Homo sapiens: one gene and its partners. The protein of the gene in region 6 purifies or fractionates together with the protein of the main gene of each other region. This does not show direct contact. Each region holds a gene or a part of one and is shown on either strand. Other genes may lie near its edges. The genes, in order: XIAP, TRIM47, TRIM9, FBXW8, FBXL17, KLHL2 and SIPA1L1.

The links.
Region 1: the proteins of KLHL2 (region 6) and XIAP purify together in Homo sapiens (affinity purification with mass spectrometry; 2 studies listed by BioGRID and IntAct, with this or other methods). This does not show direct contact.
Region 2: the proteins of KLHL2 (region 6) and TRIM47 purify together in Homo sapiens (affinity purification with mass spectrometry; 2 studies listed by BioGRID and IntAct, with this or other methods). This does not show direct contact.
Region 3: the proteins of KLHL2 (region 6) and TRIM9 purify together in Homo sapiens (affinity purification with mass spectrometry; 2 studies listed by BioGRID and IntAct, with this or other methods). This does not show direct contact.
Region 4: the proteins of KLHL2 (region 6) and FBXW8 purify together in Homo sapiens (affinity purification with mass spectrometry; 2 studies listed by BioGRID and IntAct, with this or other methods). This does not show direct contact.
Region 5: the proteins of KLHL2 (region 6) and FBXL17 purify together in Homo sapiens (affinity purification with mass spectrometry; 3 studies listed by BioGRID and IntAct, with this or other methods). This does not show direct contact.
Region 7: the proteins of KLHL2 (region 6) and SIPA1L1 purify together in Homo sapiens (affinity purification with mass spectrometry; 2 studies listed by BioGRID and IntAct, with this or other methods). This does not show direct contact.

The regions. Positions count from the first base shown.
Region 1 is NC_000023.11:123,862,655-123,866,972, forward strand, and holds part of XIAP (E3 ubiquitin-protein ligase XIAP), read left to right. Parts: intron 1-4,318.
Region 2 is NC_000017.11:75,875,142-75,879,887, reverse strand, and holds the start of TRIM47 (E3 ubiquitin-protein ligase TRIM47), read left to right. Parts: upstream 1-1,306; 5' UTR 1,307-1,339; coding exon 1,340-2,014; exon of another isoform or gene 2,015-2,037; intron 2,038-2,063; exon of another isoform or gene 2,064-2,167; intron 2,168-3,074; coding exon 3,075-3,170; intron 3,171-3,395; coding exon 3,396-3,626; intron 3,627-3,788; coding exon 3,789-3,987; intron 3,988-4,413; coding exon 4,414-4,488; intron 4,489-4,746. UniProt on the Homo sapiens protein: E3 ubiquitin-protein ligase that mediates the ubiquitination and proteasomal degradation of CYLD.
Region 3 is NC_000014.9:50,997,156-51,001,473, reverse strand, and holds part of TRIM9 (E3 ubiquitin-protein ligase TRIM9), read left to right. Parts: intron 1-633; coding exon 634-791; intron 792-3,285; coding exon 3,286-3,424; coding exon of another isoform or gene 3,425-3,474; exon of another isoform or gene 3,475-4,318. UniProt on the Homo sapiens protein: E3 ubiquitin-protein ligase which ubiquitinates itself in cooperation with an E2 enzyme UBE2D2/UBC4 and serves as a targeting signal for proteasomal degradation.
Region 4 is NC_000012.12:116,983,328-116,987,645, forward strand, and holds part of FBXW8 (F-box/WD repeat-containing protein 8), read left to right. Parts: intron 1-1,855; exon of another isoform or gene 1,856-1,878; coding exon 1,879-2,075; intron 2,076-2,326; exon of another isoform or gene 2,327-4,010; intron 4,011-4,318. UniProt on the Homo sapiens protein: Substrate-recognition component of the Cul7-RING(FBXW8) ubiquitin ligase complex, which mediates the ubiquitination and subsequent proteasomal degradation of target proteins.
Region 5 is NC_000005.10:108,360,946-108,365,263, reverse strand, and holds part of FBXL17 (F-box/LRR-repeat protein 17), read left to right. Parts: intron 1-268; coding exon 269-526; intron 527-4,318. UniProt on the Homo sapiens protein: Substrate-recognition component of the SCF(FBXL17) E3 ubiquitin ligase complex, a key component of a quality control pathway required to ensure functional dimerization of BTB domain-containing proteins (dimerization quality control, DQC).
Region 6 is NC_000004.12:165,308,159-165,312,476, forward strand, and holds part of KLHL2 (kelch-like protein 2), read left to right. Parts: intron 1-2,394; coding exon 2,395-2,592; intron 2,593-3,305; coding exon 3,306-3,407; intron 3,408-4,318. UniProt on the Homo sapiens protein: Substrate-specific adapter of a BCR (BTB-CUL3-RBX1) E3 ubiquitin ligase complex that mediates the ubiquitination of target proteins, such as NPTXR, WNK1, WNK3 and WNK4, leading most often to their proteasomal degradation.
Region 7 is NC_000014.9:71,582,023-71,586,340, reverse strand, and holds part of SIPA1L1 (signal-induced proliferation-associated 1-like protein 1), read right to left. Parts: intron 44-4,318; exon of another isoform or gene 1-43.

The DNA of each region.
Region 1 (4,318 bases), on a different chromosome or scaffold from region 6:
GTTGGAGTCCAGACTGGCCAACATGGTGAAACCCCACCTCTACTAAAAAAACTAGCCGGGTGTGGTGGCGTGCACCTGTAGTACCAGCTACATGGGAGGCTGAAGCAGGAGAACTGCTTGAACCCAGGAGGCAGAGGCTGCAGTGAGCCGAGATTGCACCACTGTACTCCAGCCTGGGTGACAACAGTGCACCTTTGTCCCGAAAAAAAAAAAAATTGACACAAGGAAAATATCTGCAGCCTGGGCAACATGGCGCAGCCCTCTCTCTAATAAAAATACAAAAATTAGCCGGGCGTGCTGGCTTGTGCCTGTAGTCCTAGCTACTTTGGGGAGCTGAGGCAGGAGGATCACCTGAGCCTTGGGAGGTGGAGGCTGCAGTGAGCCATGATTGGGCCACTGTACTCCAGCCTGGGCGAAAGAGTGAGACCCTGTCTCAAACAAAACAAAGAAACAAAAATCTGAATTGTAGACTCTTTGTAGATAAGAACATATTTTTTAAAAAAGTTAAGACTAGGGCCAAGTGCGGTGGCTTTCACCTGTAATCCCAGCACTTTGGGAGGCTGAGGTGGGCGGATCACCTGAGGTCAGGAGTTCAAGACCAGCCTGGCTAACATGGTGAAACCCCATCTCTACTAAAAATACAAAAATTAGCTGGGTGTGGCGGTACACCCCTGTAGTCCCAGCTACTTGGGAGGCTGAGGCAGGAGAACCACTTGAGCCCATGAGGCGGAGGTTGCCGTGAGCTGAGAACGCAACATTCAACTCCAGCCTGGGCCACAGAGTGAGACTCCACCTCAAAAACAAATAAAAAGTTAAGACTAAAACAGTTTATAGTGATTAGGAGTTCAGCTGTCTAGTTTTGTTTTTGTTTTGAGATGGAGTTTCACTCTTGTTGCCCAGGCTGGAGTGCAATGGTGCGATCTCGGCTCACCTCAACCTCTGCCTCCCAGGTTCAAGCAGTTTCCTGCCTCAGCCTCCCGAGTAGCTGGGATTACAGGCATGCGCCACCACGCCCGGCTAATTTTGTATTTTCAGTGGAGACGGGGTTTCTCCATGTTGGTCAGGCTGGTCTCAAACTCCCGACCTCAGGTGAAAAAGTGCTGGGACCTCAGGTGAAAAAGTGAGTCACTGCACCTGGCCCAGCTGTCTCGTTTTTAGAAATAGATTAAGACTCAAAAAAAATATTGCCCACCGTAATATATCTGATTATTAGCAAAGCTTGGACTAGAGTCTAGGTTCTAGTCTAGTGGCCCTTGTACTATACCTGTAATTTTATTGCTTTCTAGTGCATTGGATGATTCCAACTAGGCTGACAAAGTAATAATATCTAAAGGTTAGCCAGGACCATTTCAATAGTTAAGAATTATTATTTTTTTCTTTGGTTTTTATTTTATTTTGTCTTCCTTTTTTTTTTCATTTTCAGGAAGTGAGCAGTTTCTCAAAATTATTATAATTAATGGACCAGCTAATTTGTATAGTGCTTAAAATATTTTAGTAACATAAATTTTACTAAATAAATTTACTAATTTAGTAAATAAATGTTCTCCTTTTATTTCATTGTAAACATTAATTTCTTTAGTAAATCCTGTATTTATATTGTAAATGTTTAGCGATAAAATAATGATATTTCACTGTTTTTGTTTGGTCTAATATTTAAGTCTGGTAGGTAGTATTAGCAGAGAGCAAAACCTACAGTTTATGAAATAAACATTCATTGAGCACTTAATGTGTTCCAGGCATTCATTGTAGTATGTGGTAGGATTCCAAGGATAAATATGGCAAAACAAATGCCTTTCTTCTGTTTTTTTTTTTTTTTTTTTTTTTTTTGAGACGACGGAGTCTGGCTCTGTTGCCCAGGCTGGAGTGCAGTAGCGCGATCTTGGCTCACTGCAGGCACTGCCTCCCGGCTTCACGCCATTCTCCTGCCTCAGCCTCTCAAGTAGCTGGGACTACAGGCACCCGCCACCACACCCGGCTTAGAGTGTGTGTGTGTGTGTGTGTGTGTGTGTGTGTGTGTGTGTGTGTGTTTTAGTAAAGACAGGGTGTCACCGTGTGTGTGTGTGTTTTAGTAAAGACAGGGTTTCACCATGTTAGCCAGGATGGTCGCATTCTCGTGTGTGTGTGTGTGTGTGTGTGTGTGTGTGTGTGTGTGTGTGTGTGTGTTTTAGTAAAGACAGGGTTTCACCGTGTGTGTGTGTGTGTGTGTTTTAGTAAAGACAGGGTTTCACCATGTTAGCCAGGATGGTCGCATTCTCCTGACCTCGTGATCTGCCTGCGTTGGCCTCCTAAAGTGCTGGGATTACAGGCGCGAGCCATCACACCAGGCCGCCTTTCTTCTTTTTTTTTTTTTTTTGCTTTTTTATGTTCGTCTGTTTTTATTTTGCTTTTGTGTGTTTGTTTGTTTTTCCATTGTTCTTTTGAGGCTGGGAGATTATCATGAGCTGTCAATTCTCAAGCTTTATCTCTGTGAGATAATCTGGTAATAGTTTTATAAAATGTAACCTGTTAGCACTATTAAAGGACATTGTGTGAGTAGATATGAAGAGACAAACAGTAGTGATAAGATAAAAAATACTTTAGAATTTAACAAATACTGTTTCTGTATCTTAGAGGTCATGTGCTACAGTGTTTGGAAAGAGCCCTACGTTGGGTACCACAGTACAGGTTATTGACTTTGTTTCCAATTAGCTGTGGGATTGTGCATGTCAATGACCCCATCTTTCTTTACATGTTCACATTTTTGATATGTTATTTTAGGTGTTGAATTCAAAACATAAAAAGGGTATTTTAAGGCCGGGCGTGGTGGCTCACGCCTGTAATCCCAGCACTTTGGGAGACTGAGGCGGGCGGATCACGAGGTCAGGAGATCTAGACCATCCTGGCACCCCTCTCTGCTAAAAAAAAAAAAAAATACAAAAAATTAGCTGGGCGTGGTGGCAGGCGCCTGTAGTCCCAGCTACTTGGGAGGCTGAGGCAGGAGAATGGTGTGAACCCGGGAGGCGGACCTTGCAGTGAGCCGAGATTGCGCCACTGCACTCCAGCCTGAGCTACAGAGCGAGACTCCGACTCAAAAAAAATAAAAGGGTATTTTGAATATTTTATTTTATTTATTTGTTTTTGAGACATTGTCTTGCTGTGTCACCCAGGCTGGAGTTCAGTGCATGATCCCAGCTCACTGCAACCTCCACCTCCTGGGTTCAAGTAATTCTGGTGACTCAGCCTCCCAAGTAGCTGGGATTACAGGCGTGTGCTACCACACCTGGCTAATTTTTTTTTTTTTGGTATCTCTTTTTTTCCCCTCGGAGACAGAGTCTTGCTCTGTCGCCCAGAGCTGGAGTGCAATGGCTGCGATCTCTGTTCACTGCAGACTCCGCCTCCTGGGTTCAGGCAATTCTCCTGCCTCAGCCTCCCGAGTAGCTGGGATTACAGGCGCACGCCACCACAACTGGCTAATTTTTGTATTTTTAGTAGAGACGGGGTTTCACCATGTTAACCAGGTTGGCCTCGAACTCCTGACCTCGTGATCCACCCACCTCAGCCTCCCAAAGTGCTGGGATTACAGGTGTGAGCCACCACACCCAGCCTTTTTTGTATTTTAAGTAGAGACAGGATTTCACCATGTTGCCCAGGCTGGTCTTGAACTCCTGACCTCATGTGATCTGCCCGCCTTGGCCTCCCAAAGTGCCAGGATTACAGGCATGAGCCACTGTGCCGGCCTTTGAGTATTTTAAGTTATAAAAGAAATATGTGTTTCTATATATATTATATAATATATATTATACATGATATATAATATATATGATATAAATTATATTATATACAATATATTATATATGATTAATATATAATATATGATATATCATATATAATATCAAAATATATAATATGTATATAATAATGTATGATATATATAATATAGTATATAATATATTACATGTATAATATATTATATATAATATATAATACAATATATGTAAAATATATATAATATATAACACAATATAATATGTAAAATATATTACATATATAATATATATATTTTTCAGACAGAGTCTAGCTCTGTCACCCAGGCTGGAGTGCAGTGGTGAGATCTTGGCTCACTGAACCTCCGCCTCCCAGGTTCAAGCGATTCTTCTGCCTCAGCCTCCCAAGTAGCTGGGACTACAGGTGTGCTACCACACCTGGCTTATTTTATTTTATGTATTTATTTATTTTTCTGAGACGGAGTCTTGCTCCTGACCTCATGTGATCTGCCCGCCTCGGCCTCCCAATGTGCTGGGATTCCAGGCATGAACCACCGTGCCTGGCCAGAGATATG
Region 2 (4,746 bases), on a different chromosome or scaffold from region 6:
CAGCTACTCAAGAGTCCGAGGAGGGAGAATCGCTTGAACCCAGGAGACAGAGGTTGCAGTGAGCTGAGATTGCGCCACTGCACTCCAGCCTGGGCGACAAGAGCGAAACTCCATCTAAAAAAATAAAAATAAAAAAACATTATTTGGAATTTTCAATGCGAAATATGTCTGTTCTCCCCAGCTTGTTAATTTATTATTTATTTATATCGGCATGGACTCATAGATGTTTATTTTACACTTTGGGTTATAATCAGTGCTACTTTACTTATTTTGTTGTCATTCTGGTGTAGTGTTTTAACTTAACATTATTGAGATATAACTCATACAATAAAACGCACCACTTTAAGTGCATAATTAGATGAGCTTTAAATACTTCCAGTTGGGGAACCCCCAACCCCACCACAGGTGTCCCCAGTGTCCAGGGGCCAGAACTACATTCCTCAGACAAGGGACTTAGGGAATGACGTCAACTTCCCATTTCAGGTCTAGAAAAGTCCAAGTTCCCTACTTGGGGTAAAGAGTCGCTAAAGGAGCTGGGCGCTGTGGCTCACGCCTGTAATCCCAGCACTTTGGGAGGCCGAGGCAGGTGGATCACCTGAGGTCACGAGTTCAAGACCAGCCTGGACAAGGTGAAACTCCGTCTCTACAAAAAAATACAAAAATTTGCCTGGTGTGGTGGCAAGCGCCTATAATTCCAGCTACTTGGGAGGCTAAGGCAGGAGAATCACTTGAATCCGGGAGGCGGAGGTTGCAGTGAGCCGAGATAGCGCCCCTGCACTCCAGCCTGGGCGACAAGAGAGGAACTCTGTCTCAAAAAAAAAAAAAAAAAGAGTCGCTAAGGGGCAAAAACATATGTACATCAGCAGTTATTTTTCTCTGCAGTCAGCAGCTCAGGAACTTTGCTAAGGGTGCCAGGGAGGGGTCGAGCGCAAAGGTGCAGGCATGACACAGCTAGACGCGCCCAGCCCCTGCGGAGCGCTGGCCTGGCCCAGAAGGACCAGAGGGATGGAGGCTGAGTCCTTCCCATTCCTTCCACTGTACCTCTCGCGTTCTCCGCCCGCGCTCACTCAGTTTCACACCCTTTCAGCAGCGCCCTTCCTTAGGACCACGCGGACTCCCCTGGGGGTCGCGCGGGCTCGGAGGCCTCCCTGCGTTGTCTGGGCGGGGACTGGGAGTCCGCGGGCCCGCAGGCGGGCGGTGCTGCGGGGCGGGCCGAGCTGGGGGCGGGCGGGGGCCGGAGCCCTGGCCTAGGTCCCAGGGGGAGGTGCCGCGGCGCGAACGGCCCGGGTCCCTCCCAGGCCGGAGCACAATCGGCGGCGCCCTGGGCGGCCGCGGAGTCATGGACGGCAGTGGACCCTTCAGCTGCCCCATCTGCCTAGAGCCACTCCGGGAGCCGGTGACGCTGCCCTGCGGCCACAACTTCTGTCTCGCCTGCCTGGGCGCGCTCTGGCCGCATCGTGGCGCGAGTGGAGCCGGCGGACCCGGAGGCGCGGCCCGCTGCCCGCTGTGCCAGGAGCCCTTCCCCGACGGCCTTCAGCTCCGCAAGAACCACACGCTGTCCGAGCTGCTGCAGCTCCGCCAGGGCTCGGGCCCCGGGTCCGGCCCCGGCCCGGCCCCTGCCCTGGCCCCGGAGCCCTCGGCACCCAGCGCGCTGCCCAGTGTCCCGGAGCCGTCGGCCCCCTGCGCTCCCGAGCCGTGGCCCGCGGGCGAAGAGCCAGTGCGCTGCGACGCGTGCCCCGAGGGCGCGGCCCTGCCCGCCGCGCTGTCCTGCCTCTCCTGCCTCGCCTCCTTTTGCCCCGCGCACCTGGGCCCGCACGAGCGCAGCCCCGCCCTCCGCGGACACCGCCTGGTGCCGCCGCTGCGCCGGCTAGAGGAGAGCCTGTGCCCGCGCCACCTACGGCCGCTCGAGCGCTACTGCCGCGCGGAGCGCGTGTGTCTGTGCGAGGCCTGCGCCGCACAGGAGCACCGCGGCCACGAGCTGGTGCCGCTGGAGCAGGAGCGCGCGCTTCAGGAGGTGGGCTCCGGGGGCACACTCGGGTGAGCCGGGGCTGGTGACCGACCGCGCGCGAGCGGGCCGAGGACCTTGGACCCCCCAGTCTTCCCGGGTTGGGTCTTAATCTCCTCCTCTAACCTGAGGATCTTTGCGGTCCCTTCCAGCCTTGACAAGGTCATCTGCTGGCGGTGATGGAGATGGGAAGGGAGGAAGGAGGGACGTGAGAACAGGACAAGGACGCGAAGAGCGGGCAGGGGACCTGAAGCCGGGCCGGGGTCTATGGGGGTGTAGGCGGGAGGGAGCCGGGTTAGGCCCGCGGGGTTCCGGTAGCGTGGCTGCTGCTCCCGCCCGGAGGGTCACGCCGGTCTCAGCTCAGATTTGCCCTGGGCTGAGGCAGCAGCTTTCGATGGGTGTGGCAGGCGGCAGGAGGGCGGCAGAGGGCGACCGGGCACACAGATTCTCTGTCCAGCTGTTCCGGGGGCCAGTGGTGGGAGCATGTGAGCCGCGGCCTCTACCTCCCGCCCCCAGTTTCCTTTGGCCTCCAGCCCGGTCTTGGCGCCTCTGGCCAAGGGATTTTCCGTTTCTCCTGCCTGGAGCAGTGACTCATAAGACCTAGGGGATTTGCCCGGAATCCCCTTTTTTCCAGGCCTGGACTGTGGATGCAGGCTCTTTGGGAACAGTGATCCTCAGGACAGCTTAATGCCTCCTTGTGCAGTCACCCCTCCGCCGCCCACCTCCCAACCTAACTGGCTTACTCTCTGCCTCTTCCCCGCCGGAGGAAGTTCTCAAATTCATCTGAGCAACACTGAGACCAGCGGACGGCCCTGTACTAGGCCTCCTGTCAGAGACCCGAGGCAGACACCCAGTCAGCCTGCACGCCCCCCAGGCGTTCAGGAAAGGCACCAGCCTGGGCTGCAGGCACCTCTGGCATATTATGGGACATCGTGGCCACTCCAGTCCCACCTGATGCACAGATACCACTCCCCAGTCACCCCCTTCTCTCCCCTGGCAAGGCCTGGGACCCGAGTGTAGGGCTGTGGCCTCTGCCAGACCTCACACTCATGGAGGGTGTTGTCCACAGGCTGAGCAGTCCAAAGTCCTGAGCGCCGTGGAGGACCGCATGGACGAGCTGGGTGCTGGCATTGCACAGTCCAGGCGCACAGTGGCCCTCATCAAGGTCAAACACCCCTCCCTCAGCATGGAACAATCCACTCCAAACAAACCATGCCCATACCTACTGAGCACAAGTGTCCCCTGACCTGGCCCAGATCCAGGACAGGCTCAGTCTGGCCCCTCTGTCCCCTCAAGAGGGCCGGTGGGAAGCCGGGGTCAGGGAAGGAGGGGGGTACAGTCCGGGACGGTTCTTTGCCCTCATTGCCCCCTCTACTGTCGTCCTGTGCAGAGTGCAGCCGTAGCAGAGCGGGAGAGGGTGAGCCGGCTGTTTGCAGATGCTGCGGCCGCCCTGCAGGGCTTCCAGACCCAGGTGCTGGGCTTCATCGAGGAGGGGGAAGCTGCCATGCTAGGCCGCTCCCAGGGTGACCTGCGGCGACAGGAGGAACAGCGCAGCCGCCTGAGCCGAGCCCGCCAGAATCTCAGCCAGGTCCCTGAAGCTGACTCAGTCAGCTTCCTGCAGGTGAAGGCCGCTCTGGGGGCCACGGAAGGAACAGAAGCTGGGACAGGTGGGGTGGAGGGAGGAGGAGGCAGTGGGTGCATGACTTCCTGGCAGAGCTGCCTCCACCCCCAGCAAGGAGGAGCCATGGCCAGCAGCACTTTAATGGGCATTTGTCTGGCACAGGAGCTGCTGGCACTAAGGCTGGCCCTGGAGGATGGGTGTGGCCCTGGGCCTGGACCCCCGAGGGAGCTCAGCTTCACCAAATCATCCCAAGCTGTCCGTGCAGTGAGAGACATGCTGGCCGTGGCCTGCGTCAACCAGTGGGAGCAGCTGAGGGGGCCGGGTGGCAACGAGGATGGGCCACAGAAGCTGGACTCGGAAGGTGGGCACCGCCCCACGCCCCCCCGATGACTCACCCTCTGCCAGCCTCTCGCACAGGCCCCCAGGCCTGGCGCCCATCCAGAAGTGGAGGAGGAAAATTGTGCCTGGCACAGGGAGGAGCCCAAATCCTGCCAGTGACTAGAGCTGCCACCCTGTGGGGATCAATCAGCCCCTTGGACCTGGGGTAGAGGGGGCTTCTCCTAGCCCACCCTCTAGCTCCAGAGGGCTGTGGCCCGGGAAGCACATGGGGCAAGAGGCAGAACACAGGCAACGGGCATGTGTGTGAGCACAGCGTGCCACATCTGGGTGGTGCTTGCTCCCTGGTGGCTCTGGACTCTGGGAGGAAGTGAAGGGGGTAGGGATTGTAGTCACAGGTTCAGAGGGGGGCAGTCTGGGGGCGTTCTCACCACTGTCTCCTCTTCTACAGCTGATGCTGAGCCCCAAGACCTCGAGAGTACGAACCTCTTGGAGAGTGAAGCTCCCAGGGACTATTTCCTCAAGTGTAAGTGGACGCCCGTGCCCCCTCCACTCACACTGGGCCCTCCCAGGGCTGCTGGGCTGGTCCCAGCAGGGCCCTGGCACACAAGGGTTAGGATTCCTCTCCCCAGTTTGTGGGGAGAGCTAGGGCAGCTCCTGGGGTGGTCCCCGGCGGGGCTGGGTTGTGCCGGTTGGAAAGCAGGGGAGAGGCTGTGTTTTGGGGGGGTGGGTACTTGGGGAGGGGCCGTGCCCTCTGAGCCTGGCCCTGAGCCCTGCCTCTCTC
Region 3 (4,318 bases), on a different chromosome or scaffold from region 6:
GCGGATCACGAGGTCAGGAGATCAAGACCATCCTGGCTAACACAGTGAAACCCCGTCTCTACTAAAAATACAAAAAATTAGCCGGGCGTGGTGGCGGGCGCCTGTAGTCCCAGCTACTCCGGAGGCTGAGGCAGGAGAATGGTGTGAACCCGGGAGGCGGAGCTTGCAGTGAGCCGAGATTGTGCCGCTGCACTCCAACCTGGGCGACAGAGCGACACTCCATCTCAAAAAAAAAAAAAAAAAAATTATTAGCACAGCTTCAGGCACGTTATAAGTTAAATATGCTTTAGTGGGTTGGACTGGAACCCCAGCCTCCATGTAAAACATTTCCTTTAGGGATAATGTCTTCAATGTTCAAGGGGATGAGAACACAGTTCTGTGAATCTGCCTGTCTCCCCTCCAACAGCCACAATGAAGGTGGGAAGGGCCACTGTGCGCTTAGAAAATGGCCTCACAGCAAATCAGGAGCCAGTCTGACTCCTGGGGACTCTGTGAAGGATCCTGTTCAGTTCCCCTGTGCACCCCATTCTGGCTACTTCTAACCACGTGTTTATCAGGGGGATGCTTGTCATTCTAAGATACTGGAATATCTGCAGCTTAACAGAAGCCAGAGTTACACTAATTTCTGTTTAGCTTCCTCTCCAGTCCCAGCAACCCCTATCCTACAGCTGGAGGAATGTTGTACCCACAACAACAGCGCTACGTTGTCCTGGAAACAGCCACCTCTGTCCACGGTGCCCGCCGATGGATACATTCTGGAGCTGGATGATGGCAACGGTGGTCAATTCCGGGTCAGTAGACAGCCCACTACGTACTTGTTAACCCAAAGCAGTGACTCTGTCAGAGGACCTGCCAGGGAGTCTCAGGGCTGGCTTCCCCATCTCTCCTGGGGACAGGCCATCCTGGCAGGGCCTGCCTGCCCTTCACCTGAAGCCTGCTTTCTCCCTCTACCGTGAAGGTGGATGGAGCAGTCTCTGAAACTGCCCTACCCTTCTTATGAGACAGGACATGCAGTACTGGAGTCAGACTGCCTGCATTCAAGTTGGTCTCCTCCACCCTAGCTATGTGGACAATGCCTAATTATCACCCCTTTGAGTCTTCAGGTCCTCATTTATTAACTAGAGGGATGATAACAATAGCGTGAATCTCATGCTTTGTTGCTAAGAGTCCATTAGATAATTCATACAAAATTCTTAGCATGCTGCCTAGAACATAGCAAGCGTTCATTATTAGTTATTATTATTACCATCATTGCTTATTGCTAATAATATAATTAACCGTTGTCCAAGATTTATTTCTGCAATCCACAGCTTCTAATGTCTTTGATTGGCATTCCTCTTAATTGACATGGTCTCCTGTTATAGCTTCCCTATTCTAAGCAACCTTTCTAGCAAAGGTTTCCCCAGTTCTATAGTTTTGTTCTGGGCCTTTCACCAGATAGAACTGGTACCAGAAGATTGCTACCTTCCCAAGGTGAGGGAGCCCTATCCCCATTGAGAAGCTCATGCTGCCCTCTGAAGGCAGGACAGAATGGCCTCCTGGTAAGACACAGCTGTGGTACCACCAGATTGATGATTCATGTGCCACCACCTGCCGGCATGTGTCTGCTTCTCTCATACAGAGCTTCATTCTCATCCATCCTCTCCCTGCCACCCTACTTTCCATCCTCTCCACCCTAGTCTTGCCTGGAAGTTCTGATGCTTGGAGCTTCCTAAGGGAGCAGCCGTTCTGGGGACTGAGGCCAGTTCCTGCACTGATGAAGAGGAGACCCCTGTCTAAAAAAACCTCAGGCCCGTGAGGATGAGGCTTTCTTCTGGTCACCAATAGCCAAACCTGAGCCACTAGCTTTCAAGAGCAAAGCCTCTCAAGGCCCCCTTTTCCTGAATGTGTTTTTGATCCCCCACTAGGTTTAAGTACTTGAGAGCAGGGGCCTTGTCTTCTACAATTCTCCTCAAGGACAAAGGTTCTCTCTTTTGATAGAGAAGCCTTATTTACATATATGTTGATTTATTGGCATGATAAAATCTAATTTCTTTCTTTCCAAGATAAGGGCCTCAGGTTCCATTTCATGTCTTTTGCAGTGTGTGTGAGAGTGTGTGTGTGTGTGTTGTGTGTGTGTAAAATCCTATTTGTCAGTTTCTCATTCCTGACTTTGCCTTTTCAGTGCCTGTGTCATTTTCAGGGCCTTTCTTTTCCCTTTATTATCTTTTTTTTCTCCTGGGAAAGTAACTCTCCCGGTTTTCCCAATTCTTTAAATAATTATCTTATTTTGTCTTGACTTTTTCCTCTACTCAAAAGTGCGGTCCTCCCCCAGCAGCATTGGTTTCACCTGGGAACTTGTTAAAAATGCAAAATCGAGACCCTACCCCAGACACCTACTGGATCAGCAACTGCATTTTTACAAGATCCTCAGGTGATTCATATGCACGTAAAGTTTGAGAAGCACTGAATGAGAGGACATAATATTCCAATTTTTGTTATTCCAGCAGGAGTAATGAATTGATGGGTGATCCAAGACCGTGGTCTTCTTAGTATCCTACCAGAGAGTTGTCATATTAAGGCTGTGCTTTGAATGCAAATTATTTTTATTCATTACATCAGCATAATTTTGCAATGTGTACAGCTGAAGAGGGAGGCAAATGCCTAACCTATGCTAAAGACGCATTATGCTAGGATTTATTTTAAGCCTTTGAAATGTCATTCTTCCTCCTTTCCCTGTTTCCTCCCCCTTCCCTCTGTACTGTGATGAAAACCTATCCCCGGTGGCTTGGAGTGTAATCTCTGTGACAGTTCTGAAGTTATCAGCGGAGTTCTAAACATAGGATAGAGACCACCTTCCTGTTTTCATGGTTTCAAACATGTTTTTTACAAACCATACTGATGGATAAGGAGCTCAGTAGGGGCTATATACTGTACCAATCCCAAGTTAATAAGTGTAATCTGAACTATAAGCACTCAGTTTTATTTTTTTTAAGCCCTAGCTGCTAATAACTACCATTCATTAGGCTGCCTGGCCCATGCTAAATACAAGGCATGACGCTAATCTGCATATACAACATTAAGTAATCCTCACACCAACCTCATAAGGTGGATATTATTATCCCATTTTACAGATTAGGAAACTGAGGCTAAAAAGGTAAATTAAATGGCCCAATATCTCACAGGATTCAAATCCAGATTAGAATGACACCAGGGCTCTTGCTCCTAACCACTGAGCGACACTGCCTCCCTCGCCCCTCAGAAGGGGGCAGGCTAAGTGCTGTCCTGTTCTTTGCTGACTCTCAGGAGGTGTATGTGGGGAAGGAGACAATGTGCACTGTGGATGGTCTTCACTTCAACAGCACATACAACGCTCGGGTCAAGGCCTTCAACAAAACAGGAGTCAGCCCGTACAGCAAGACCCTGGTCCTCCAAACGTCTGAGGGTAAGGCCCTTCAGCAGTATCCCTCAGAGCGAGAACTGCGTGGCATCTAAAGTGGCTGGCAAGCCCGGAGGTAACCCCACCACTGCCCACATTCCTGAAGTGTTTCCATGACTTGCTCTGCATTCTGCACAGAGCCGCTGTTCCTCTCCTGCCTTTAGAGAGCCTATGGTATGTGGATGTGATCAAACCAAAGATTCCACATCGGCAGTTCCAATGGCTTGGGCCGGCGGCTTCCTTTGATAACAATCTAAATAAGCTGCAGTTGAAGAAGCTGAAAAATGAAGGCCTGAATGTGCCCCTGGTGTGTAAGACAAATGTATCTAGGCTCTAGAGCAGGCTCCCATTCTCCACCGATACACATCATGTGCCAGTTTTGCCCAGATGATTCTAAATTACTCTGTAGTACTTGCTTGTTCTGAGGGTGGGACCTAGGTTCTTTCCAGTCGTGGATTTGTATGACTGAATGTGTTTCAAATGGGTGGTGGGGTGCTAGAGCTGTTTAGAGAGGGCCTGTTGGCTGCTCCTGGCTTACCCACTTAGACTGCCTCCGTTTCATACCCAAAGCGGAGGCCGTCAGCACCAGGATTGAGACTTCCTGTGGGCACCAAACAGGAAGAGACCAGCAACTTCGCATTACCCGCCATTTTCATCTTTGCCAGTCCCTTCAGTCTTGGCTAGGCTACCGAGAGCCACCATACAAGGTTCATCTCTAGAGAATTTTTGCTTCTTAGCTATACTTTAAATATTTTGGTCATCAAAGACAAGTAATGTGTCTCAGATGAGAGGCTTGAATTTGATGGCCAGATATAACCTCTGAGGCTTTTAACATTTTCATTTTAAGAGTAAGCAAGACACATGAAATTAAACCTACAAGGAGGTATTTGTGGCTGGTGC
Region 4 (4,318 bases), on a different chromosome or scaffold from region 6:
AATTGCCAGGGGAATGTGCTGTGGAACCTTTTGTGATCCGCTTATCCCCCAAGTTTATCATAATTCTTAAGAGTGCACTGTGTTTTAGATGCGAAGCAACATTTAGCTTGAAGAAGGCTCTGCTTTTGTTTATAATTGCTTCCTTAGCCTACTGACAGTTTGGAAGTCTGGCAAAGCAGCCCAAATGTATTATTTTCTTCCAATTCTCTATATTTATTTAGTGCTGAATGATCCTTTATAGTAAGATCCTAAACTCAAAGCATTTATAGTTTAAAGACAAAGTAGAAGGCAAGAAAAAAGAAAGATAGGAAGATACACTGCCAAGAGAAGGAAAGCAAAAAGCTTGGTCTGTTCTAGATAATAGGAAGTTATAGGAAATAGGGCTAGATTTACGGATGATCAATAGAAGGGGAATTAGCATTGATAGATTAAATATGTTTTATAACACAGCAGGAACTATAGACTGCATAAAAATAAAAGACAGAAAGGAATGGTCCATCTTCAGTGCTTCGTGTGGCCGGTCTCCTTTCATCTGCCTCACAGTCCTATGTAGTAGGTAATGTTGTCTTCAACTTTACAGAAAGGCTAACAGGCTCAGAGCTGTTAAGCAGCTCCCCTAAGTCCGTCAGCTAACAAGTGCTGGAGCTGGATTTGAACTCAAATAGTCACAAACTGTTATCTCCACACATTTATTTCTTGGTGAATTTTGAAAAATTGAATCAATTGGAATTGGAGCAAGGCATTAACCAGCCTAATGCAGAGAGTAATCATTTTCTTGGGTAAATCTTCGAAGGGAAGGAAATAGCTTGGGAATGATAAAAAGAAATTATTTTTGAGGAAAGAAGAATCAATGAAATGCTAAGTACAGAAAAGGTTATCTGACTGGAAAAGCATAAGCTCCTGTAGACCACTGGTCCTAAACTCCAGTGGACATCCCCAGAGTTACTGGTGCCTGACAGTCTGCATTTCTAATAAGTCGCCACGTGGTACTGATGCTACCGGTCTGGAAACCACCCTGGAGAAAGGGTGTGTGGCCAGTGTGTGAAAGAGGAATTAATCTGGGTAGCAGCATTCCAGGTGCTGGGAGAAGAGTGGAAAATCGGCATTTTTGGCAAGTGTGGGATATTGAAGCACAGGTTTTAGAGCTGTGCAAAATAAAGCACTGCTGCTAACAGAGGCTTTAGGAGGATGGCGCTGAGGAAGGATGTGAAATTCAGGCTGAGCATCCCTAATCCAAAATTCCAAAATGCTTTGAAACTGTTTAAGCACTGACATGATGCTACATGTAGGAAATTTCACATCTAACTTCATGTGATGGGTTTGTAGCCAAAACACAGCCAAAACTTTGCTTCATGCACAGAATTATTTAAAATATTGTATAGACCAGGTACGTTGGCTCACACGTGTAATTCCAACACTTTGGGAGGCAGAGGCAGGAAGATTGCTTGACCCCAGTAGTTCAAAAAAGCAGCCTGGGCAACATAGTGAGACTGTGTCTCAGCTAAATTAAAAATTAGCTGGGTATGGTGGCACACGCCTGTAGTCCTGTCTATTTGGGAGGCTGAAGCAGGAAGATCACTTAGGCCCATCAGTTCAAAAATGCAGTGAGCTATGATAGCACCACTGCACTCCAGCCTGGGCGAAGAGTGAGGCACTGTTTCTAAAAAATAAAAAAGTAAAATAAAATATTGTATAAAATTACCTTCAGGCCATGTGCATCAGGTATATATGAAACGTAAGTGATTTCGTGTTTAGACTTGGGTCTCATTTCCAAGGTATCTCCGTTAAAAAATTTTCCTTTGTGTTGCATGTTTTTAAAATAATTGAACATATTAAGTAAATTTAAAATTGTTACCTGCATTGTTTCTTGCTGCATAGGGTTTCTTAATATTTGGGATTTAAGGACCGGAAAGTACCCTGTTCATCGTTTTGAGCACGATGCAAGAATACAGGCACTAGCCCTCAGCCAGGACGATGCAACCGTGGCCACAGCTTCTGCTTTTGATGTCGTGATGTTATCCCCCAATGAGGAGGGGTACTGGCAGATAGCTGCGGAATTTGAAGTTCCGAAACTGGTGAGCTTTTTAGTCTGGTCATCTTATTTTCTATTCTTAGAATCTCTGGGTCTAATGTAAGCACGTACTAATGGTGTTGGTAACTCCCATTCACTCAGAGCTTCCTGCGGGCCTTACCTCCATAAGTCTAACTACAGCCTTACAAAATAGGTAGTAGCATTTTCCCCATTTACCAAGAAGCCACTTCAGGCTGCTTAGAGCAGTGAACTGACTTGCCCCAGTTCTCAGAGGTAAGAAGTTACGATTCAAACCTCAGGGCTGACTTCAGGGCCAGAGCTGCTCATCACTGTGGTTCCTTGGCCTTCTTCAGACTAACACGGTGGAATCTCACCCTTGGGAATCAAAGATCAGTTTGACCTAATATATAAGTGAGAATGAGTTCAGTGGTGTTATCCCAGTCCATCTGGGAAGGAAGGTTTCCATTCCTACACTTTCTTCATCCCAAGACTGTCTCACCTGAAATTTAAAGTAACTCTTGCGTGAAGATAGATTTAAGTTGGTGTTAATTGGGTAGCCATGTTCCAGGATGTCATGTGTGCAGCTCAGCCAGCCTTAAGAATTCTTTATGTCGAGCTTATTTCTGAGTTCATTGGTACAGGAACCTCTAGATTTGTAGAGTGGGAGATGATTTGGTGTTAAGAAGGAAGTGCTCAAATCTGTCTATGCTGAGTTAGGATTTAATTTAAACAAACTTGATTTTGGCACTGGTAGGAGAGTGAGCAGAAAAGCCAACACTGAGTGATGAATTGAGGGCCTGACCTGGAACCAATCCTGTTCCTCCCTCTTTCTGTCTGTTGGGAATCTTCTTAGACTAGAATAACTTAGAAAGCCATGGCATCACTGCTTCACCTCCAGGAGCGTCTGCACTTTGAGTATAGTGCTCCCCTAAAATGGCCTGATGCTGTCAGCTCATCTGGGTTTTATTAGAAAAATGTGAAAGTACATTTCTGTTCTCAAAACTTCCATAGTACTTACTATTTAGTCTGTGATTAAAGAATACTGTGTCACAAGGTCAGGAGATCGAGACCATCCTGGCTAACACGGTGAAACCACGTCTCTACTAAAAATACAAAAAATTAGCCGGGCGTGGTGGTGGGCGCCTGTAGTCCCAGCTACTCAGGAGGCTGAGGCAGGAGAATGGCGTGAACCCAGGAGGCGGAGCTTGCAGTGAGCCGAGATCGCCACTGCAGTCCAGCCTGGGCAACAGAGCGAGACTCCGTCTCAAAAAAAAAAAAAGACAAAAAAACAACAAAAAAACGAATACTGTAGACCAGCAATCACTGTATGGACCCAGATACTTACTTAAGATGCCAGTTTCTCTGTAAAGTGCAAATCCTGCCTTGGCAATAAGGTGGCATCCTGGCACAGACTGGAAGCTTTTTGAACTAGTTTACAGCCCCCAGCAAATGGCACCACCACTGTCAATCTGAGCCTCTTGGTCTGTCAGAAAGCCAACACGGAGATAAAGTTAAAGGGCTAGACGGAGGATATCAGTTGTAGGAAAATGAGACATGATTTGGGGGAGTGAGAGGAACCGAGCAGCCATTGTTCAAGGCGGGTTTTATGCACGTTTTAGGAATTATTTTTCACTTTGAGTGAAAGGTTCCCACAAAATGCTCTGAGTATCCTTGGAAAAGGCACCCCTGGCCCGAAGAGCCAAGCCAGTTTTGTCTTGTCCATATACGCCCCTGAATGGCAGTGGCAGTGTTCCCAGGTCTGCGATATTAGCCTAGTGCGGCTGTCCTTTGTGATGGACCCGCAGCTTGCGGAGCTGGGCCCGAGTATTAGCAGAGTCCCCCGGATGTTGACGCTCCCTCCAGCTCTTCTGGACCGTGTTCTGGAGGCCGGCTTTGAACTCTTTGGCATATGGTCAGGGCAGCGCTGTCCTTTCACACTGTGGATTTTCATAATTAGTGTGGCTCACCTTCTATGTGTCCTCTCGTGATTTACTCGCAGAGGCGAAAGCCTGTTGCGAACGGCACCGCGGAGAAATGGGCCGCCTGTGGATGGACAGAATCAAATTATTCTTGAAAAGTGCGTCTCAGACTCGTGCACATTAGAGAAAGTGCCGGCGGTGACGCAGTCAGGACTGGGGAGCGGGGTGGGTAGAAACATGCGTGTTTGTAGAGCCTTCCTTACCCTCTGGTGGCCAAATGGACCCTGATGACGTTGAAACCAGGAGACAGCAGATCACTTGGATATTTTTAACCTTTTGGCCACACATTTTGACACAAATGTTAAAA
Region 5 (4,318 bases), on a different chromosome or scaffold from region 6:
ATGAATAACTAAAGAAATTCTATTGCTTAGGAAATTCCAAGAGTTTTGGGAAATATGTGGCAAGAATTCAGGACAAAGACCAATTACAATATTATTATTATACCAAATTCTTGTTATGCTTCAATGTTAAGACGGTTTCTCTTTTGATTATATCGTTCATGCTATAATCTAATTAGTATATTGTTTATTGTGGAACATTTAATTAAAAAATGGAAAATACGTTTTTATTTTTAGCAAAAGTTTAAATTTATTGCTTTTTCTCTTACAGGTCACTGATGAATTGTTGGAAAAAATTGCATCAAGAAGTCAGAATATAATTGAAATCAACATTTCTGATTGTCGCAGTATGTCTGATAATGGCGTATGTGTTTTAGCATTTAAATGTCCTGGACTTCTTAGGTATACAGCCTACAGGTGTAAACAGCTTTCTGACACCTCTATTATTGCGGTTGCCTCTCACTGTCCTTTACTTCAGAAAGTGCATGTAGGCAACCAGGACAAACTCACTGATGAAGGACTCAAGCAGGTAAATTTTAGCATTTATAAAGTGATTTTACTTGAATTAATTAAAAATGTTTTCTAGCAACAACATTTTAAATGGTTACGTTAAAAATAGTTCCCAGAGACTCAAGTGAATCATCTTTTTTACCTATTAATGAATATTTGTTTAGATTAGTTAACTAGAGTGCCATGGTTATAATCAGTAAATTAACTGCTTTGTTTTATAGTGAGAGCCTGAACTTCTGTGACCAGCCATTTTATAAATTTATGCTTTTGTTACTTAAATTTTTTACCACATTTTGCTTTGGGCAACTGCGTAGTTTTGGTCAGCATGAGGTTTTAAAAATTAACATTTTAATTCCCCTTTTATTATACTAGATGACATACATGCTTAAATATCTGAATGTTTAAGGGATAAATGGACGTCCAAATTGAAGATTATAAAAGTTAGAACAAAGGCCTAATTACCTCTATTTGGTACAATAACTGGGTTAAAAATAGTATTATGCATACCTTCTGTTTATTATACTTCCTTTGGAAATGGCATTTAAGGTTTCTTGGCTCGGAGTGGATTATTTATTCAACAGATGAATATCCTTAAATTTAAACCTTATGTATGAATTAACTGAAAGCTTGGTATGAAAAGAAATTTGGGAAGACTCTATCCTAAATAGTGAGTACTGGGTGTGTCAGTACAACTTATATATTAAGAATGTTACCAACTTATAAGGGAGCCTATTTTGTTTGCAAAGGCATATTGTGCAAAAAGTCTTATTTGTTTTAATATTTTTCTTGATTCATTTCTGCTATGTACAGGATTATTTACTAGCAAAGCATTTCATGAAGTTCTTAAACATATTAAATTAATCTTTTATGAAGAAATATATATTTTGTGTATATAGCATGATTTTATTTACTTTGATGGAAATTTCTCAGCAATTTATTTTTCACAATGAAACATTTTAAAAAGGTGTATGTATTAAGAACTGGATTAAATCTATTTCATATTTAATTCTGATATAACACAAATAGGTAGTAGTTTAGCAGACTTCTTAGGGTATACCTAGTAATTTTTGTGAAAAAGAATAAGATCGTAGTCATGGTTGAAGTAGAGAAGGAGCAACATTTAATATGCTAATCAAGTATTATGAATTTATCTTATATTTACAACTTTGAGAGTAATTATGTAAATCTTCTCTAGAATGTGAGGTATTTTGGAGCCTGTTACTTAGATGTTTCCTTCGGATATTTATGGTTTCTGAATTATGAATTAGTTACACGTGAGGTAATATTCTGATAAAAGTAGCAAAACAAATTTTTTTCCCCTTAGGTAGTTTTCTTCTTAAGTAATTACATAGGATCTCATTGCAGTGTAGAGAATATTTTTCTGTACTTAAGACCGCTATAGCTGGGTATGTCTGATTTCATAATAGACTCTTTCCTCTGATGGAATAGTGTTATGGGTATAGTAGAAAGAGAATGGCTTTCATATATACATAAAATAGAAATTAAGTTTTATGAAACAATACACATCCTTATGTGCAATGCACATGGATATTATCTATTCTGTTCTATACTATTATGTTAAATGTTGGCCTTGACCCACTCACTAAATTAATTTTATGACCTAGTGATATTTCATAAATCCGAATATGGATTTATATTATGGTTTTAGTAAACTGACAGTGCTATGTTAAAATGTATAATAGAGTTACGAAAGCCTAAGAGGGAACTAGCCATAATTGATGATTTGCCTGGGACTGTTATTTTTTCTTGAACTCATTAATTTAGCAATTGACTGAATTGTTGATTCTACAGATTAAGTTGTTGCAGGGTTCTGTTTTTTCCCTCTTCTGTCAGTAAAAATTGAGAAATGTTTTAGAATGATATATGTAAATTTTATTGATAATTTCTTTAGAATATATTTTCTTTATAACTGCTATAATTTTGATTGACTTTAGCGGATACCAAATATGTGTGCCTTTTGAATTCTGTCAGTTTGTTTACAAAAACAGTTGCTTATAGCATTTCAATTTGGAGCTCTAATAGATGTAGACTCTAATGTTTTAACTATTGGATTCTGCTTAACAATATTTCTTAAGCATGGTGAAGCACCTAAAAAAATCAGGCTGGTTTTGGTTGAATACTATCCTCTTTGTGAAATACCACCCTGAAATATTTATATTTTTATTTTCATAATAGTCACTCAAAATAATTTTACCAGTGGAATGTGTTCCTATTGTATATATCTTTTAAAACTACAATCATGTATCTAGAGGAAAAATCTATTTAAGAATAAAGGGCTGTTTCAATTTTCCTAATATTTTGTTATCATCTAGCACTTGCCAGTAAACAAACGATAATAGTAGTCAAAGTATTAAAATATATCTAAGAAATTGTATGCATTGTTACTATATTATGTGACTCAATTATATGCAGTTTTAGCAGTTTAACACTCCAGCTCATGGAGCTCAGTAGAAATTTCTGTAAATAAGTCACTGTAGGCTTTTTTCAGATAAAATGGTACAAAAATAATAAATGTTACATTAGTAAATTTTGATCTGGCTATGCTATCAATTTTTAGGTCTTTAAAAATAACTACTTAGAGTACTATCAGCAAAATGTTGGAGCAGGCAGCTCCAAAAGCCTGCCTCTCCAAAAAAACATTGAAAAACAAGCCTAAACTATCAGATCCAACTTTGTCAGAACTCTGGAAACGTCAAAGGTTTATAGCAACCAAAGGAATGCTAGACAAGAAAAATGCAACTGAAAGGTGGAAAGAATGCTTTGTGGGTTTTTTACTTGCCTGTGCCTCACCCATTCCCCAGCTTGGCAACAGTCTTGAAGATAGCAGTCCGAGTTCCCAGTGTGGGACCCAGATCCCTGGTTCCAGAGGGAACAGAGCAGACCTTATTTGCAAATTATTCATTTGTCTGATCAACCTACCTGAGAGCTATTTGAAGGGCTGATGCAGGTGCTTATATATCTGTTTTACCTAATTTAGAACCCAGTCAGGGAGGAAAATTAGTGGGCATTGATTGAACACAGTATAAGGCAAATGAAAGAAACTTGCTTTTGAGCAAGCTTCTTTGGGCAATAGATTATGGTGAGACATACAATTGACCTAGGAGAAAGAGCCTGGGAGAGAGTTTGTTTTTATTTTTGTTTTTGTTTTGAAATTAGGACAATCAGCCTCAGTGTATAGAAGGGAATTTTGAAAGCCGCATGCATGCCCAGGGCAGGACACTTGTTCAGGAACGACCTAAGAAGACTGTAAACTTTATCACTGTGTGCTTGCTAGGTCCAGTACAAGCAGGAAGTAAAGGCCAAGGCAGAGTTGTGAATGGTATGGCTAAGTCTTAAAGAAATATCCCAGCACAGAGCCAGTCTGCAAAGACTTGAATAAGTGCTTTTGTTTTTTGTTTTAGTTTTGTTTTTAAGCTTTGGCATCCAAGGAAATCTCTTTCAAAACACTGGCTGAACACAAGCTAAGCCTTGATTAATCAAAAATAGTGAAGCGTAGGGAAGTGGGGAGAATCTAATTTCCCAAGTTACCACATTATAATCTAATATTTTAATATTTAGTTTTCAACAATAAATTACAAGGCATGCAAAGAAAAAAGTATTACCCATTAAAACAAAAAAGAATAAATAGAACCCATTCTTGAGGAAGCCTGGACATTGGATTTACTAAAGATTTTACTAAAGATTTTAAATCCATTATCTGAAATATGCTCAAAGACATAAAGGAAACCATGGCCAAAGAAATGAAGGAAATTAGGAAAATAATGTATGAACAAATTGAGAATGTCAATGA
Region 6 (4,318 bases):
TTTTAACATTTTCTTCCAATGGTCCTCTGTGTTTCTTGGCAAGTTTATTTTTAGGTGTTTTATCTTTATCGTTACTATCTGAAATGGAGTCTTGTATGCCATTTACTAACTGGTTTCTTAATTCATATCTGATTCCTAATACAGTTCCCTTTTCATTGAGGCCATAAGTCATTTGACTCATTTTATTGCAAAATGTATTCTTTACTTATTGGGTAACTATGAATAAATTTTATCTTCATCATGCCCTCTTTCCTCTCCCTCCTTCAGATTAGAGCCAATGTCCTTAACTGTGTAAACTTGGCCAAATTTTAATAAACTGTGTAATTAAACTTCTGGGCACTTCAGTTTCCTGATAACTTTGGGAGGTTATCATACTTCTTTTAGTTCAGTCCCTTCTCCAGACCCAGAGCCTTTGGTAGGGGGCACTTCATAGATTGATTCATTTATTTTCTTCCTCTCTGTGACCTAAAATTCTCTAAACCTTGGTAAGCATACTATGTTACTTCTAAGAGATGGCATATTTGTAGTGTTATTTTGTGGGTAGAGAAAGGAAAATGAAAATTGCAATGGGCAAGATTCCCACAATGAACATTCCCTGGAGTTAGTTATGATTTTGGGATACAGGATTGTTTCATGCTGAAACATGCTGCCTGGTATGTTGCTGCTCACGAGTCTCCAGGCCCTCTTAGGATGTCTGTTAAATTCTGTGCTAGCAGGGGGCCAAAACAGGCAACTTCATCTGAACTGGAAAGGTCTTGTTGCCATATGGAGGACTGCATTTCCGTGTATTTTTACAGGGGTGGGGGAATAAAGCACCAGAGGTTAAGACAGTAAGGGGCAGAGGTACATCTCTTGCCTGATAACATCTGCAAAACATTGAGCTCGTCAAACATATCTGGTGATTCCAGTTCTCCCTACAGGGATTCAGAGAACTGTGAGCCACATTGCCTGCCCTCAGGCTGGCACAGGGACATAAACATTATAGAACTAAGAACAATAAAAATTTGAACAATTTAAAGTAATTATATTATAGACGGTACATTTATTAAACCTGAAGTACACAACATAGATGTTATTTGCTATAGGGTTCGGGAGCTGGACATAATCCCTTTTAGGCTAAAGTGGACAGGGAAGGCATCATAGAGAATGTGGAACTTTAACTGAGGATTCAGAGTTAAAGAGAACAGAGTAGATGGTGATAGGAGCCTGTCCGATTAGGACAGCAGCATGAAAAAAGTTGAGAAAAGTGAAAAGATGGTTGAAACCTGAGTCTAGCAGTCTAGTTTCTCCATTCACTGATTCCGTAATATCTCTTTAGCCCAAGGATCAGCAGACTTTCTCTTGAAGGACCAGAGAATAAGTATTTTAGGCTTTGTGGTTATATGGTCTCTGTCACAGCTTCTTATCTACTGCTATAGTGCAAAACCAGCCATATGTAAATGAATGAGTGTGGCAGTGTTCCAATAAAACTATATTTATGGATGGTGAAATTTGAATTTCATATAGCTTTTTACATGTCATGAAATATTATTCCTCTTTTGGTTGTTTTTCAGCCATTTAAAAATATAAAAACCATGCTTAGCTTATGGGTTCTACAGAAATAGTTCGCTGGACCAAATTTAGCCTGTAGCTGTAAATTTGCCGACCCCTGATTTAGCCCACTAACATGATAAACTAGGAATACGTTATGCAAATAAATTATAAGCGTATGGAGTTTCATTCTAAGAATATCCACTAGAAGATCCAAAATTGAAAGCTATGGGAGGTGAGTACAGGTTCAAGTAGTTGGAAAATAATGGCTCATTATTTAAGCTTGTAAATTGATATTTAAAAAAACCAAGAGTCAACATGGTACTTTAGCCCATGCCATTGCATTTTTTAATAACCTTAGAAAGAAGGCCAGGTGCAGTGGCTCACGCTTGTAATCCCAGCAGTTTGGGAGGCCAAGGCGGGCAGATCACGAGGTCAGGAGATCAAGACCACAGTGAAACCCCATCTCTACTAAAAATACAAAAAATTAGTTGGGTGTGGTGGCGGGCGCCTGTAGTCCCAGCTACTCAGGAGGCTGAGGCAGGAGAATGGTGTGAACACGGGAGGCTGAGCTTGCAGTGAGCTGAGATGGCGCCACTGCACTCCAGCCTGGGCGACAGAGTGAGACTCCGTCTCAAAATAAAGAAAGGAAGAAATAATAATAATAATAACCTTAGAAAGAAAGACAATTTAGTGATTGGATGTTCTTGCAAATGAATAGCATTTTCAAGGATTTATTTAATCAGGCTCCTCCTAAGAGTAGCATGTTCTGACAACAGCTATAGATTTATCAGAAAGCAATCTTTGGATATTGGTGGTAGTTGAGTTGCATGTTGATCATTAAATGCTGTACTCCTTTTGCAGGCATGGTCTACATGGCTGGACTTGTTTTTGCTGTTGGTGGCTTTAATGGCTCATTAAGAGTTCGCACTGTAGATTCCTACGACCCTGTGAAGGACCAGTGGACCAGCGTTGCTAACATGAGAGACCGGAGAAGCACTTTGGGAGCTGCTGTGTTAAATGGATTATTATACGCTGTGGGAGGCTTTGATGGGAGTACAGGTAATTTCCTTTTCATTTATTCTACATTGCTGCTAAAATTAACGTAGTAGTCATGTTTATGGAATAAATTGTGGCAACATTAGGGCACATGTGAGGTTTTTTGTGTTTTTTTTTTTTTTTTTGAGATGGAGTCTTGCTCCGTCGCCCAGGCTGGAGTACAGTGGCGCAATCTCGGCTCACTGCAAGCTCCGCCTGCCGGGTTCATGCCATTCTCCTGCCTCAGCCTCCCGAGCAGCTGGGACTATAGGTGCCCGCCACCACGCCCGGCTAATTTTTTTTGTATTTTTTAGTAGAGACGGGGTTTCACCATGTTAGCCAGGATGGTCTCAATCTCCTGACTTTGTGATCCGCCCACCTCGGCCTCCCAAAGTGCTGGGATTACAACATGTGAGGTTTTAACTGGTATTTAAAGATAAGTTTAAAATTTTATCAAGAATTTCCTTAAATGATATGAGTGGTGAGTATATAAATTTTCTTTCTTATGCATCAGTATCAGTCATCAAATTTTAAAAGCTTATAAATATCAGTAGCTTAGGTAGGAGCCTTCTGGAAAACAAGCTGTACCTGTTTTTCATGTAATTGCTGTGTTTATGTTCCACCATTTTCTTCTCTTAATTTTAGCCCAGTATAACATACCTGAAGTATTTTTCCATATATATGAACTATTGACATTTTTTAGAGAAGGAAATGAAGACTATTGTGCTTTATTATAGGTTTGTCATCTGTGGAAGCATACAACATAAAGTCTAATGAGTGGTTTCATGTAGCTCCCATGAATACAAGGAGGAGCAGTGTTGGTGTGGGTGTTGTTGGAGGTAGGTGTTGACAGTTCTTTCAGGTACATGTGGCATTTTGATCCTTGAGAGTGGTTCTTCCAGTAATCTCAACTTTAGTTTTCTGAATGGGCAAGCTAATTATCATTTTAAAAAGAAAAGTCGTAATTACTGTAAAATTTCAGTTATCCTCTTTTTAAAATTAGCTTCTCTATATAAATCAACCTATATAAAGCCTTTTCTCTCCCTCTCTATCCCCCTCCCTTTATCCCTCCTCCTTTCTCTCTGTGTGTGTGTGTGTGTGTGTGTGTGTGTGTGTGTGTTTGACTTATATAACTGTGTGTGTTTGACTTATATAACACGTGTGTGTTTGACTTATATAACAGCAGTCCCCAACCTTTTTGGCACTAGGGACTGGTTTTGTGGAAGACAATTTTTCCATGGACAGGGGTGGGTTGGGGGGATGGTTTTGGGATGAAACTGTTCCCACCTCAGATCATCAGGCATTAGAGTGTCATAAGGAGTGCACAACCTAGGTCCCTCAAATGTGCATTTCAAGATAGGGTTCACACTTCTGTGAGAATCTAATGCCGCTGCTGATCTGACAGGAAGTAGAGCTCAGCTGTAATACTTGCTCACCTGCCGCTCACCTCCTGTTGTGCAGCCCGGTTCCTAACAGGTTCCAGACAGGTACCGGTCCATGGCCTGCGGTTTGGGGACTGCTGCTGTATAAGACTGTCAACTGATTTTAACAGTTGCTTGGGGGAACAATTCAGGTGACATAAATGTGTAATTTTATATCTGGAGAAGGGCTGTTAAGGGATGGATTGCCACAGTTATTTATTTATATCCTACTTTGTCTCCCAACAGAAGTTAAGGAAGGCTCTAAGTATTATTATTATTATTTTTTTTTAATTGACTTGGGCAAATTTGCAGGTTTCCACCCCCTCCTC
Region 7 (4,318 bases), on a different chromosome or scaffold from region 6:
TGCCTCCAAGGCAGGCGCTTTCATTTCTCTTGCAGCACACAGCATCACTTTAGAAGACTCGCTGCTATTTAAAGGCTGGAACATGTAGGGGTGTTTCAAAAAAAAAAAAAAAAAATGCATGCTGCCTGCAGAATGCAGGGTGAGGCGAGCTCTGGCTGGGCTCGTGCTGGCTGAGTCTGTGGAGCCATTCAGATAAATGCCATTTGTTTTCACTAGCACTCCTCTTCACCATCTTTTGTAAAAGGGATAATAGTTTTGCACTGCTACCTAATTAAACATGGCTTTTGAGCTTTCTAGATACTTCTACTGTCAGACTGCTATTATTCCCTTTACATTCCAGAACTTTACATGTTCCTCTTTCAATGATAACCCTTCAAGTGACAAAACATGCTAACTGTTGCTTCCGAGGATATCAAAGGACAGCATATATGGCCATAGCAAAGGTTCAAGAAGTGATTCTCATAAAATGGAAGGAAAATTGAACAACTGAACCAAAATGCAAACACCTGTTCAACATCTCCCCAAAAGCTGATTATTTCAATGAATACTCTACATAGCATAAATAATACTTCTAAAGTAGATTTTATAAAAATTAGATGCTTTCAACATTTCTCACAACCTCACAGAAATCCAAATAAATCATCTTTCATTCCCCAAACATTCATTCTCTAAAAGGACAACACACCAATCCCACCATGATAAAAACTCTTGCCACATTTCATGTGCCTTAGAAAATACTTTACTGCACAGCTGTCTTTCCCAGGATATGTGAAGTTATTTCCATTAGAGGAGGAAACTAAAAGCTGGCAGTAAAATACAAGAAATAAAACTGACTTGGAAATGCTCAGTCTCCACCATCAGTATTTCTCTTCCAAACCATCTCATATACTTCCAATATTTTTAATGAGTTTATAAAATCTTATTTTTAAATATAAAAATTTCTTACCAATTCAAAAGAAATTTCAAGACTCCCATTACATTATATAACAACGACTCAATGTTTTCTTTTCATTTCAAAATATAAATAAGCACATGGGAGAGAGAGAAGCCACGTTTTAATGGCTTGTAAAAACTGATGAGGTTCGAGATGGGCAATTATGTTAAATAACAGATTTTTTTTCAGTCATAAGGACCTTCCTTTTCTATGTTTTTTTTTTCTCCCTCTCATTTTCCATCTCCCTCCCTCCCTCCCTCCCTTTTCTCATTCTTATTTATAGCATCAAACCCCTTTGGGGTACAATATAAACTTTGGGCACTGACTAGCATATATGGAAATATACATGCTTTGCACTTATTAAACTACCAGTCAAAAATAATGCTGTCCATCGATGTGTATCATATGATGACAGATCAATAATACCTTCACATCTATTCCTTAGGGTTGACTGAAACAGCAAACCTATGTTGACAATGATCAGCAACTCTCTTAAATATCAGCAAACCTGCCTAAGTACCAATATGGTAAAAAGCAATAGAATTAAACAGAAGAGCAATACGAATTCACAGCATGTCACCTCCATCTGTTGAAAGAGCAGGCTATATAAAAATTTTCCTTATTACATGTTTAATTTTACAGCTCTAGATACTATCTAAGTCTATGGTAGATCCAGGTAGCTAGAATACTAATTCCATCTAGAGGGCCCACAGTTTAGTTCAATGAGTTCAATTCAACTAGTTGAAAGTCTTTTCATCACTCAAGATCTCTCACAACCTAACCCACCATTCTTCCAGAAGAAATGCTTCCTCCTCTCATCCAAATCACCCCCTGTGTTTCTGTAGTGTCTTCAGAGCATGGACCATACATCCACCAGTCCCTCCTTCAAGGAAAGCTCCAGGTGTAGCAGGGAGACACAGACAAGTAAGAAGATGACGGGGGATGCATGGGTCATGCCTCCTTCCTATACACTTTCCATTTTGATTGTAAGCTCTTTAATAACAGAGCTTACAATCTCCTGCTGGGACTAATTGTACCACAGTAGGTCAGCCATTTAGAATATCAAGTCCCTGAGAATGCTGAAAGCAGAACCTCTTATGGGATCTCTTGATTGCCAAAAATCCCTTGTCATTCTGGCTCTGTGAAGCATCTGTACTCCTGAACCCATCCTCCATCCTGAACCTCTCTTTTCTGGACCTCTGTGATAACCATGTGCTTCTTCATTTTCTCTTGCCTCTTTTTGCCCACTACTCAGTCTTTAGTTGGGGTCCATTGAAAAGGTGGTGTCTATGGTTTATCTCTCTTGACATTTTTCATATTTCTGGAAAGGGGTATAAAAGGTATTTCTATCAGGATGCATGTGAGCACTGAGTGTATTAGGATGAGACAGAAGCATGGGTCCACTGGAGTAATAATATCACTGTGGAAAGCAGAGTGTTGATTGGGCTGGCTCACATTTGTCTGTGCAGCTGAACAAAGGCAGAATAATTAAGTTACTGGCTGGAAATCTGCATGGCAACCAGTACTCTGTCTGTTGATACTGTAGGTGCCTGCAGCTTTAAATATCATCTCTATGCTGTTACCTCCAAATCTCTGGTCATGATCTTCTCCACTAAACTTCAGATAAAATAGAGGTAGGTGCTCATTTGACATCTTCTTTATTTACCTATTTTACAATGAAATAACCAACAAGCAGAATAATGAAAAAAATTTTTTTTCAAGAAATGATTAAGTGGTAAGGAAGGGAGCACATTCTATTCCTAATTCAAGGAATAGAATGAAAGAAACAACATCGTGCCAAGGGCATAAAGAGCAGTTTAAAGGTTACAAGAAGAAGATGTGGGAAGGGGGTGGGGTTGGGGGAACACTACAGTTCCTGTTGTGAAAGAATTACAGTGCAATATGGTAGGGTCACCAGAAAGATGTAGCGTTCCTCATAAAATACTTCCACATTCCAAAATGAGATCTTCTCAGATTCTTTAACTGGTACAGCCTAAAATACAACGCCAGCTCTCAATGTTTCAGGGCAGTAGAAGGAACTGTGCTGATGAATAACTATTCAAATGCCCCAATAATTCAGAGATATACACTTCAGAAGTATTTATGAAAATTTCCAGGCCCAGCACAGTGCCTTGTGCCTGTAATCCCAGCACTTTAGAAGGCCAAGGCAGGCAGATGGCTTGAGCCCAAGAATTTGAGACCAGCCTAGGTAACATGGTAATACCCAGGCTCTTAAACAAACAACAAAAAAATAGAAATAGTTTTTGAACTTGTAAACACAGACTTAGAATGCCTGTAAATATTCTTACTTCAGAATGTAATAAAACACTATTTAAAAACAGAAATATAACTTCACAGTACTTGAATATTAGATGAGCTAAGATAATCAAATAAGGCAAACTATTTTCTTTACATCCCTTCTTGGCTTTCCTGAATTCCACTCACATTACATAAAAGTTGCATCTCAGACAGAAGGGATGGCTCACTCTTTCAAGTTAGCCTGAAACACATCTTAGTGCAATGTCATGGATAATTTAAGATTTATGAATCAGCGTAAAACTTTTTAGAATGGAATTTCTACCTCCTTTCATTTCTGTATTCTCCCTTCAACAAAAAGCAGGAAGAGTTGAGAAAAACAGTTGATAAATCTAGTTCCTGCTCTCCTAATGTTCACTCTCTGAAAGAGACAACACTGATGGAAACAAAGTCGAGTCAAAAAAACTTTTGGTAAAATTAACAAAGTGAATAGAAAAGTTATAGATACAAAACATGTAACATGATAAAGCTGTATTTGAATTTAGAGATAAGAAAGCAACTTAAAATGTGCCTGTTTGGACACAGGAAGGATCAAAAAGGAAAATCACATTTCCCTCCCACTCACCCTCGTAGCTAAAAAAGTTCAGTGAAGAAAGTTACGCTTCTAAGGTTTTGTTAAGCTTGAATATAGTTTGTATAGCTGAAGGTGAAGGAAAGAACACAAAAGTTTGGCAGAAAGCTTGAGGGCAGAAGAATGATAAAGAATGCGGGAACAAGTTACGTGGTGGAATAATAATATTATTATTATTACTATTTGAGACAGGGTCTTGCTCTGTCACCCAGGCTGGTGTTTGGTTGTATGATCATGGCTCACTGCAGCCTTGAACTCCCAGGCTCAAGTGATCCTCCCACCTTGGCCTCTTGAGTAGCTAGGACTACAAGCATGCCTCACCATGCTTGGTTAATTTTTAAAATTTTTTGTAGAAACAGGGTATTGCTATGTTGCCCAGGCTGATCTTTAACTCCTGGGTTCAAGGGATCCTACCAAAGTGCTGAGATTACAGGAGTAAGCCAGTGCACCCAACCCATGGTGGAATAATTGGTAAGTAGTAAATTGATGCAACAGCT